2 separate regions of the Homo sapiens genome follow, and region 2 is linked to region 1. Evidence: fine-mapped expression QTL. A gene starts in region 1. The other region holds a variant in brackets. All regions are shown on one strand. Distances are between the middles of the regions. Region 1 holds the start of SLC30A4 (solute carrier family 30 member 4). Region 2 overlaps SLC30A4-AS1 (SLC30A4 antisense RNA 1).

What was found. PIP is the estimated chance that this variant, and not a neighbour inherited with it, causes the effect.
Region 2: its variant is the best candidate, but not a certain one, in a credible set for the expression of SLC30A4 in monocytes after Pam3CSK4 (Quach 2016, PIP 0.70).

What each region holds. Positions count from the first base shown.
Region 1 is chr15:45,520,448-45,525,832 of GRCh38, reverse strand. SLC30A4 (solute carrier family 30 member 4) reads left to right here and starts at 3,078. Exons shown (of 8, transcript NM_013309.6): 1 at 3,078-3,226; 2 at 3,365-3,869. The coding sequence starts at 3,479. It also overlaps the pseudogene HMGN2P46. RefSeq lists a silencer at 2,886-3,375.
Region 2 is chr15:45,475,014-45,480,398 of GRCh38, reverse strand. It overlaps SLC30A4-AS1 (SLC30A4 antisense RNA 1), which reads right to left. Exons shown (of 4, transcript XR_007064611.1): 2 at 4,090-4,320; 3 at 3,847-3,997. SLC30A4 (solute carrier family 30 member 4) reads left to right here. Exons shown (of 8, transcript NM_013309.6): 8 at 1-793. Among named protein-coding and RNA genes, the nearest start is that of SLC30A4-AS1, 29 kb to the right of the region's middle. The variant ATG/G (reference allele first, on the strand shown) is at 2,703.

The DNA of each region.
Region 1 (5,385 bases):
GTCCACCATGTTGACCAGGCTGGTGTCGAACTCCTGACCTCAGGTGATCCGCCTGCCTCAGGCTTCCAAAGTGTTGGGATTACAGGCGTGAGCCACCATGCCCTGCACTATGCCTTTTCTTACCCAGGTTGTGAATGCAAATGAAAAGTTCTTTTTTATTGTTTGGGTTTGTTTGTTTGTTTGTATTAAACTTTTATCACTTGACTCTGGGAAATGGGAAGGTTCTTGAAGGAAATTAGAAATACCCAGACCAGCCTGGGCAACATAGTGAGACCCTGTCTCTATTTAAAAATAAATAAATTAAATAATTTTTTTAACAAAAAAGAAAAGTTTGAAGCTAGCAGAGGTCGGTTCATGAGATTTAAGGAAAAAAGCAATCTCCATAACATAAAAGTGCAAGAAGCAGCAGCAAATGCTGATGGAGAAACTGCAACAAGTTGTCCACAAGGTGTAGCTAAGATCATTAAAGGTGACTACAATAAACAACAGATTTTCAATACAGGGGAAACAGCCTTCTATTGGAAGATTCCACCTAGGGCTTTCATAGTTAGACAGAAGTTGATGCCTGGCTTCAAAGCTTCAAAGGACAATCTTACTCTCTTGTTAGAGGCTAATGCAGCCCGTAGCTTTAAGTTAAGGCCAATGCTCATTTACCATTCCGAAAATTCTAGGGCCCGTAGGAATTATTCTAAATCTACTCTACCTGTGCTCTATAAATGGAACAAAACCTGGGTGACTGGCCGGGCGCGGTGGCTCATGCCTGTAATCCCAGCATTTTGGAAGGTCGACCCAGGTGGATCACCTGAGGTCGGGAGTTCGAGACTAGTCTGGCCAACATGGTGAAACCCCATCTCTACTAAAGATACGAAATTAGCCAGGCGTGGTGGCACATGCCTGTAATCCCAGCTACTTGGGAGGCTGAGGGAGGAGAATAGTTTGAAATCGGGAGGCAGAGGTTACGGTGAGCCGATATCGCGCCATTGCACTCCAGCCTGGGCAACAAGAGTGAAACACCATCTAAAAATAAAAATAAATGAATAAAAAAGAAGAAATACCTTTCATAAGGCTATAGCTGCCATTGATTCCTCTGATGGACCTAGGTAAAGTAAATTGAAAAACTTCTGGAGAGGATTCAGCATTCCAGATGCCATTAAGAACATTCGTGATTCATGGGAGGTCAAAATATCAATATTAACAGGATTTTGGAAGAAGTGGATTCTAACCCTAATGGATGATTTTGAGGGATTCAAGACTTCAATGGAGGAAGTAACTGTAGATGTGGTGGAAATAGCAAGAGAACTAGAAGTGGAACCTGAAGATGTGACTGAATTGCTGCAATCTCATAAAATTTGAACAGATGAGGAGTTGCTTCTTATAGATAAGCAGAGAGAGTGGTTTCTTGAGATAGAATCTACTCCTTGTGAAGATGCTGTGAACACTGTTGAAATGGCAACAAAGGATTTGAATATTCCATAAACTTAGTTGATAAAGCAGAGGCAGGGTTTGAGAAAACTGGATTGACTCCAATTTTGAAAGGTCCACTGTGGGTAAAATATTATCAACCAGCATCACACGCCATCAAGAACTCTTTCATGAAAACAAGTCAATCAATATAGCAAATGTCATTGTTGTCTTATTTTAAGGAATTGCCACAGCCACCCCAACCTTCAGCAGCCACCATCCAGATCAGTCAGCAGCCATTAACAAGGAGCAAAGACCCTCCAACTAGCAAAGAATATGACTTGCTAAAGGCCTAGATGATTGATAGCTTTTTTTTTTTTTGAGACCGAGTTTTGCTCTTCTTGCCCAGGCTGGAGTGTAATGGCGTGATCTCGGCTCACCACAACCTTCGCCACCCGGGTTCAAGCGATTCTCCTGCCTCAGCCTCCCTAGTAGCTGGGATTACAGGCATGCGCCACCATGCCCAGCTAATTTTGTATTTTTAGTAGAGACAGGGTTTCTCCATTTTGGTCAGGCTGGTCTTGAACTCCCCATCTCAGGTGATCCGCCCGCCTCGGCTTCCCAAAGGGCCGGTATTACAGGCGTGAGCCACCACGCCCAGCTGATAGCATTTTTTTAGCAGTCATGTATTTTATTTACTTGTTTATTTTTAGAGACAAGGTCTCACTCTGTCGCCAGGCAGGGGTGCGGAGGCACAATCATAGCTCACTGTAATCTCGAACCTCTGGGCTCATGCGACCCTCCTTCCTCAGAGCAATTAACAAATGTATATATACTTTTTCCTTCCTCTCTCCCAATATTTTAAATTAAGGTATGCACATTGTTTTAGACATAACGCTATTACACGCTTAATAGACTACATTATAAACATGATTGTATTTGCACTGGGACATGAAACATTTGTGAGACCTCACTTTGTCATATTGCGGTGGTCTGGAACCAAATTCGCAGTATCTCCAAGGTATGCCTGTACTAGATTTTCTATGCTTGAGTTTAGTCCATATCGTAAATACCTTGGAGGCAAAAGGAACACGGCAGAGAGCACAAAGAGGACAATACATATTTGCTGAAAAACAGTAGGACACAGAACTGCTGACGACGACAGCCTTGCCCTCTCCAGTTGACTGCAGCAAATGTTGCCAATTTGCCAGAGACAAGCAATTCGAGGAGAGAAAAGCTGCTTGCCTTTTCAGTTAGCAAGAAAAGTGCTGGGTTTGTCTTCTGCCGAGCACCCGCAACCCAGATCCCGACCCGAGATTCCTGAGACACACTTTCGGTGGAGGGAACTCCTAGCAGCAACGCCCAGCCCCCGGCGTGACCCTCCGACCGCACTTGCCTCCCAGCCTGGGAAGGTGGAAGAGGCCGCCCAAAGTCCCCTCAGTTGGCCAGTGAGTGACCCCTGGGCGGAGGCGGCGCAGTGGCCCCCAATCCAGCCTCGGGGCGAGAGGCGGGGCGCGCCGCGCGCCCCCGCCCATCGCGGGCGCCCCAGCCCTGCGCGCCAGGCCTGCGTGTCCTCGCGCCGACCCCTCCCTCGCGCGCCTCGCCCGGCGCACGCGCGTGGCCTCGCGCAGGGCGGGGAGAGGCGGTGGCTGTGGGCGTCCGGCCCCGAACCTGTCAGACCTGGGGAGCCGGCCTCCAGCAGCGGGCGCGGCGGGCGCGAGCACGACCCCACTCTCCTGCGGCCGCGGGTGGAGCAGCGCGAGCCCGCCTCGCTGAGCCGGCCGGGGGCGGGGAGATGAGTTGCGGCCCCGCGGCAGCGCCCCAGGTATTAAATAGATGTGCCGCCCCCTCGCGGAGCCCCGGCGGAGCGTCGGGGTCGGCCCTGCGACCCGCCGCCAGCGGCTTCGGAACTTGAGGACAGGGTTGGGCGCCTTTAATTTATAACGTGTTTCGTTTTCCACAGGATGGGGAGGGACGCGCGGCACTGCCCTCGAGAACTGGCGCTCCGGTGAAGTAGGCGCCGCCGGCCGTCCGCCTCCCCCAAGCCGTTCCGCACCGCGGCCGCTCAGCCTCTGCCATGGCCGGCTCTGGCGCGTGGAAGCGCCTCAAATCTATGCTAAGGAAGGATGATGCGCCGCTGTTTTTAAATGACACCAGCGCCTTTGACTTCTCGGATGAGGCGGGGGACGAGGGGCTTTCTCGGTTCAACAAACTTCGAGTTGTGGTGGCCGATGACGGTTCCGAAGCCCCGGAAAGGCCTGTTAACGGGGCGCACCCGACCCTCCAGGCCGACGATGATTCCTTACTGGACCAAGACTTACCTTTGACCAACAGTCAGCTGAGTTTGAAGGTGGACTCCTGTGACAACTGCAGCAAACAGAGAGAGATACTGAAGCAGAGAAAGGTGAAAGCCAGGTTGACCATTGCTGCCGTTCTGTACTTGCTTTTCATGATTGGAGAACTTGTAGGTGAGTTGTGTTGCCAACTCACTTTCCGTTTACCTTTCCTCGAGAGTCTTTGTCAAGCTGTAGTTACACAGGCTTTGAGGTTTAACCCATCTTTTCAGGAAGTTTGTATTTATCAAGACACTGATCTCATGTGAAAAGGCCACACGGTTCCAAAGTGCAGCTCAATCTAAGTACAATATAAACTCCCCGAGATAACTTTGACTTTCTCTTCTAGTTGTTCAACCACTGTCATCTACCGTAAAGTTAAGGACGTTATCTTCATTGTATGTCATGTAACTTCCTCTTTTTACAAAGGTCTGGTAAAATACCAGGTTAATTTTCGCAACGTTTAAAATAGTAAATGATCGTAAATAACTTAAGATCATAGAATTTTACAGTATGAAGGGACCTTACTGAACACCTGCTCCACCTCCTTTTTTTTTTTACATGTAAGGATTTCCAGGGCACAAACCAGTGGAATAAGTCGTGAGGGCCACTTAGGGAGTTAATGGAAGAGCCACATCTACAGTCCCAGCATTTTTTTCCTCTACATTTGACCTAAGTGGTTTCTTTTATACGATTTCCTTTTGTATTTATAGCCAAGAGATTTGCAAAATTAATTACCAACTAACATGAAATTTTTGCCTCGTAAGAAGGGCCTGAAATGAACCAGAGGACTCCGCCAAAGTTCTATGAGCCTGGTTTTCTTGTTCATTTTTTAATTATACGAACAATCCGTTCTCAATATAAGATACATTCTTAGTTTAGAGGTTATTTTCAATCACGTCAGTATAACTACTAACTTCTCAGTGACAGTTTACAAAGTGACATAAAAGCAGGGAGATGATTCTTACATGTCATCTCTTAAATGATGAACCATGACAAAAACAGGTGGCAGTCCAGATTTAAGATGTTTGACTGGAGGGTTCTATGTGGGAAAAATTATATACATTTCCTACCTTCTTTCATAACACTCCTCCCCAGGGCTCGCTTCAGCCATGCTGGTCTTCTTTTTCCTCTTACAACTCACAAAGCTCTTTTTGCCTCTAAGGCGTTCAAAGTGGCTGGTCCTTCTATCTCAGTGGCTTTCAAACATTTTTTGACCTCACTGTAGTAAGAAATACACTTCACATTGTGACTCATTTAGGCATGCATGCATACATATGTATGAGAATATACACAGGTCACATGTGTATAAATATATGTATAACTGAAACAAAAGTTTTCCTTCATGTGATGTATCCTAATAGTTTCTTCAATTGTGGTCCCAGCTCACTAAATGGATTTCGTGTGTCCACTGCAGTAGGTCAGGGCCTTAGCTTGAAAAACACTGCTTTACATAGACTGCCTTTCCCAAATCTTTTCTTGGCCAGTTTCTTGTCATTCGTGTCTTATTTAAAAAGACACCCCGGCCGGGTGCAGTGGCTCACGCCTTTAATCCCAGCACTTTGGGAGGCCGAGGTGGGTGGATCACCTGAGGTCAGGAGTTTGAGACCACCCTGGCCAACATGGTGAAACCTTGTCTCTACTAAAAACA
Region 2 (5,385 bases), 45 kb after region 1:
TCTTGACAACCAGGTCTTGAGATTTGTTTTACTGATTGCCAATCAGGTATATTATTTGTGATGTTCGTGGGAGCATGCAAATTAGAAGACAGTGTTGTGGGAGTTCCTCAGTATTGAATTACATGTGTGCACTCAGGCCTGCCAGTCACTGAATTCTGACTTGTAAAGGGTTTAACCTGCTGTTCCAATCATTGAGGACCAATTTGCTTTTTGATAAGATTGGAAAACATTTATGGAGACTTTCCCAGTTAAATCTATGACAGTGTCCACTTAAATAGTGCAATTTAGTATATTCTCAGATAACTGCAACACAAAATTGAAATGTGCCAGTATGTCATCTTTCTACCTGGAAGATACTGTATATTTGGAAAGTTTATGCTTCTCTCAATAAATACATGTTATTAAATAAGCCATATCACAGTTTAAGAAATTGTATATACTTTATCATATGCCCTTTCAGAAACCAGGTATTTTGCATATGATTGATTTTAGAAAGATTTTGAAGCTGGGGTTTGTCCATGTTAATTAAGATCAAAGTATATATATATATATATATATGTGCTGTATTTGCAACTTTCACATTGTAATTTCCTATACACTTATTAAAGTATTGTTTTGCCATGTGGTTTATTAAATAAAAATGTACAGTCTCTTAAATATCTGCTCTTTTTATTAAGTAATATTAGTAGGCCTAAAAACATTGTTCTTAAAAGAAAATCTTTTATAATTATAATGTCATTTTATAATGCCCTCTTATATGTTTAAGAAATAAAACTGAAAAAAATCTTCTGGATAGTATGGAAAGATTAATTAAAAGAACCTTTCTCTTTTGGTATCAGTCACATGCAGTGACGCTACAGTCCCATCAACAGTGGCAGAAAGGAAATAAAGAAGCCACTGTAAAATAGACTGGTGAGGACCACCAGGAAGTCTGAGAGTAAGAGCCTGCTGACTCTCCAATCGTGTGGACCAGTCTACACTATACCTCCCAGGCCAAATCTGGCCTGCAAGCCTGTTTTATTTGCCCCAAGAACTAAGAATGATTTTTACATCTATTAAATCACTGGGTGCAGTGGCTCACGCCTGTAATCCTAACATTTCAGGAGGCCAAGGCAGCTGGATTGCTTGAACCCAGGAGTTCAAGACCAGCCTTGGCAACATGGTGAAACCTCATCTCTACAAAAAATACAAAAATTAACTGGGCATAGTGGCACATGCCTGTGATCCCAGCTACTCAGGAGGCTGAGAGATAGGAGGATCACTTGAGCTCAGGAGGTCTAGGCTACACTGAGCCGTGATGGTGCCACTGCTCTCTAGCCTGAGTGACAGTGAGACCCTGTCCCCATCCCCCCCCAAAAAAAAACAGTAAATATTTCATGGCATGTGAAAATTATATGGACTTTAAGTGAATTTCTGTGTCTATAAAGCGTTACCGGAACACACCACACTCATTCAGTTACGTATTGTCTATGGCTGCTTCCATGCTACCGTGGAGAGTTGCGTAGTGACATAAAATATTTACTATCTGGCCCTTTATAGGAAACGTTTACTAACCCCTGGTGTAGAGTGTTTTAAGACTATAACAAGCCGGGTGCGGTGGCTCATGCCTGTAATCCCAGCACTTTGGGAGGCTGGAGTGGGCACTTGAGGTCAGGAGTTTGAGACCAGCCTGGCCAACATGGTGAAACCCCGTCTCTACTAAAAATACAAAAATTAGCTTGGCATGGTGGCAGGTGCCTATAGTCCCAGCTACTCGTAAGGCTGAAGTGGAAGAATTACTTGAACCCAGGAGGTGGAGGTTGCAGCGAGCCGAGCCGAGATCACACCACTGCACTCTAGCCTGGGCAACAGAGTGAGACTCCGTCTCAAAAAAAAAAAAAAACACTATTAACAGCATATATGGATGCAGTGAAGTCTCCTAGAACCTGCTTGCAAGTTTTTGTGACTGGTAAGTCTGAAGCCACCTGAGTCACCAAAGGTTCTTTCATACCTTTACCTTTTTTCTCATTTTAAACTTCCTTTGGGTTTGGGGCAGAATATAAGAAAAGAGTAGCAAGATTTCAAATATTATTCATATGCCGTACGCTGTCACATCACTAGCAAAGCATTTTTCTTACTAGAACACCATGATCACCAGAATCATTTAAGTATACTTTTCAACATAAAAGCTTATTCAGTTGATTTTTAGATTTTTCACTTGTTATAACAAAAAGTTAAGAAAATAAAAATATGTGTAGAGTACCTTATGTAATTTGTGCCAATTGGGAGCTCACAAATGATGTTCTTTAAGGTTTTTAAGTTTCCTAGCAAAAGACAACAATATTTAATAAATATTGTAATAAAATATAGTTGTAAATATACTAGTATAGACTGAGCCTGTAATTCCAGCACTTTGGGAGGCTGAGGCAGATGGATCACTTTGAGCTCAGGAGTTGAGCCCAGCCTGGGCAACAATGGTGAAACCCCATCTCTACAAAAAATAAAAAAATAAGCCAGGCATGGTGGCACGTCTGTGGTCCCAGCTACTCGGGAGGCTGAAGCTGGATAATTGCTTGATTCTGGAAGGCAGATGGTGCAGGAAGCCAAGACTGCACCACTGCACTCCAGTGACACTGCAACAGAGTGAGATCCTGTTTAAAAAAAAATACATATATATGTATTATATATATATTATATATATGTATTATATATATATTATATAT[ATG/G]TATTATATATATATTATATATATGTATTATATATATTATATATATGTATTATATATATTATATATGTATTTATATTATATATATGTATTATATATATTATATATATGTATTATATAATATATATGTATTATATATATTATATATGTATTATATATATTATATATATGTATTATATATACTAGTAAAGATTGAGATGTTACTTATTATTTGATTGTCTACCTAGCTATTCTATTTTGATGTGTCATTTTTTTTGATCCATGTCAGATGTTAAATACTAATTTGGGGTAACAGTCTTACAAGCTCTTGATTATGCTAAACTTTAGTATATTCATAAATAATATTTTTTGGATATATTTCGACTTCAACTGTGGTCCCATAATAATTGCTATAAGCTATGAAATAGACTAGGCACAAATAGAAAGTATGAAGCCTTATAACAAAATATAATCTCTACATGAGTCATGTGTTTAAGATAGGAGGTTTTAAAATCCAATGTTATCACCAAAAATAACATTTTCAAGCAGCATTCTGGTGTAACAGGCTCTCATGTAACTTTTACAGAGCACTACAAATTAAAGTTTGGCCCATGGGTCTTACCCTATAAACATGAAGAGGATACTGTGTGAGTTATCAAATTGCTTCCATGTCTCCTGGACTTAAATTTTTTTTTTCTGGTTTGATTTTCAAATTCCTGTTGTCTGTGTTTCACTTGCCAGTTTCTGCACATTGGTTTGTGGTTAGTTGGTGTTTGTTTGTTTGTTTTAACACTTTTGTCACTTCAACAAAAAGCTGATGCTATGGGAAAAATGTGTATGGATTGGTTTTTCTCCAAAATATACTGGGCTATTTCTTGGTAAGAGAGTAGGATTTTTTACAGTAGGAAAATTTTAGAGACCTCATGAAAGCAAGGCTAGCCCTGAAGCAAGACAGACCGTCTCTGCTCCCTTGACTCTCCTAGCATTTGAAGATTTGACCCCACATCTTTTCGAGAGGAAACCTGCTAACAGCTTAAATGGTTACTGCAGCATTTACCTTTGAACAGTGATCACAGTGAATGTTGGACTTCAGTCAGGGCATGAAGGACTGAAGTGAAGGTAAGAAATGTTTCCTGGACTTCCATTCATTAATCTATCATACTCACCTGTGAAGGCTATGGGGCAATTCCTTGTTTCAACACGTTCTTTTTCAGTTTACAACTTGACTGGAGTTTCAGTGTTAGCACAAGTCTATTCCATCCTCTTTTTGCTTCTTTATATAAGAATATTTTCCAAAGTCCAGGATATTTTTTAAACCTTGAAACAAAGTGTTATATAATTTAGTGTATTAGTCATTGACGTGTATTTGGTTTTAGAAGTGTTTCTGATCTAGGCGTGGTGGCTCATACCTGTAATCCCAGCACTTTAGGAGGCTCAGGAGGGAGGATCGCTTGAACTCAGAAGTTCAAGACCAGCCTGGGCAGCATGGTAAAACCCCATCCCTACAAAAAATTAGCCAGGCATGATGGTGTGCACCTGTAGTCCCAGCTACTTGGGAGATCCCTTGAACCCAGCAAGTCGAGGTTGCAGTGAGCTGAAATTCTGCTGCTGCACTCCAGCCTTGGTGACAGAGTGAGATCCTGTCTCAAAAAAAGAAAAAGAAATGTTTCTCATCTTTAAGATACCATGATATTGAAATTTTGACATCTCAGAAAGTTGGTTCAGGCTGAGTGCGGTGGCTCACACCTGTAATCTCAGCACTTTGAGAGGCCGAGGCAGGCGGATCACCTGAGGTCAGGAGTTTGAGACCAGCCTGGCCAACATGGCATGGCAAAACCCCGTCTGTATTAAAAATACAAAAAAATAATCTGGGCATGGTGGCATGCACCTGTAATCCCAGCTACTCAGGAGGCTGAGGCAGGACAATCGCTTGAACCCAGGCGGGTGGAGGTTGTAGTGAGCCGAGATCACACCACTACATTCCAGCCTGGGCGACAGGGTGACAGTGAGACTCTGTCTCAAAAAAAAAAAAAAAGGTTCAAGTGGTTGGAAATGTTTTTTTCTTTTTCTTTTTTTCTTTTTTTTTTTTTTTTTTTAGTTTTCTTTAGGCAAGGTGTCACTCTGTCACCTAGGCTGCAGTGGTGTGATCTTGGCTCACTACAGCCTCATCCTCCCAGGTTCAAGAGATTCTTGTGCCTCAGCCTCCTGAGTAGCTGGGATTATAGGCATGTACCATCATGCCCAACTAATTTTTGTATTTTTAGTAGAAATAGGGTTTCACCACATTGGCCAAGCCGGTCTTGAACTTCTGGGCTCAAGCAATCCACTCGTCTTGGCCTCCCAAAGTGCTTAGGATTACAAGCATAAGCCACCGCACCCGGTGGAAATGGTTTTTTCTGAAGTAGATTGAGACTATTCCAAATGTCATCCATTTTACAATTATTCAACCAAGGATTGACCTATGAAGACCATCTGCCTGCCACTGAACATGCTATGAAATAGAACACACAATAGCAGTGGGTTTTTTTTTTTTAAGTTAAACAGGAAATAAAACAATGTTATGTTTTTGGAGGGCTTCTTGGGCCATAGCCTCACTCCTGTAGATAGAAGATCACACTTGTCTCCCATTAGGAATGGCTTCAGAAATTGTGACCAGGAGGATTAAAGTCCATCCTCTTGGTAATGACATGCAAAGTCCTGATCTG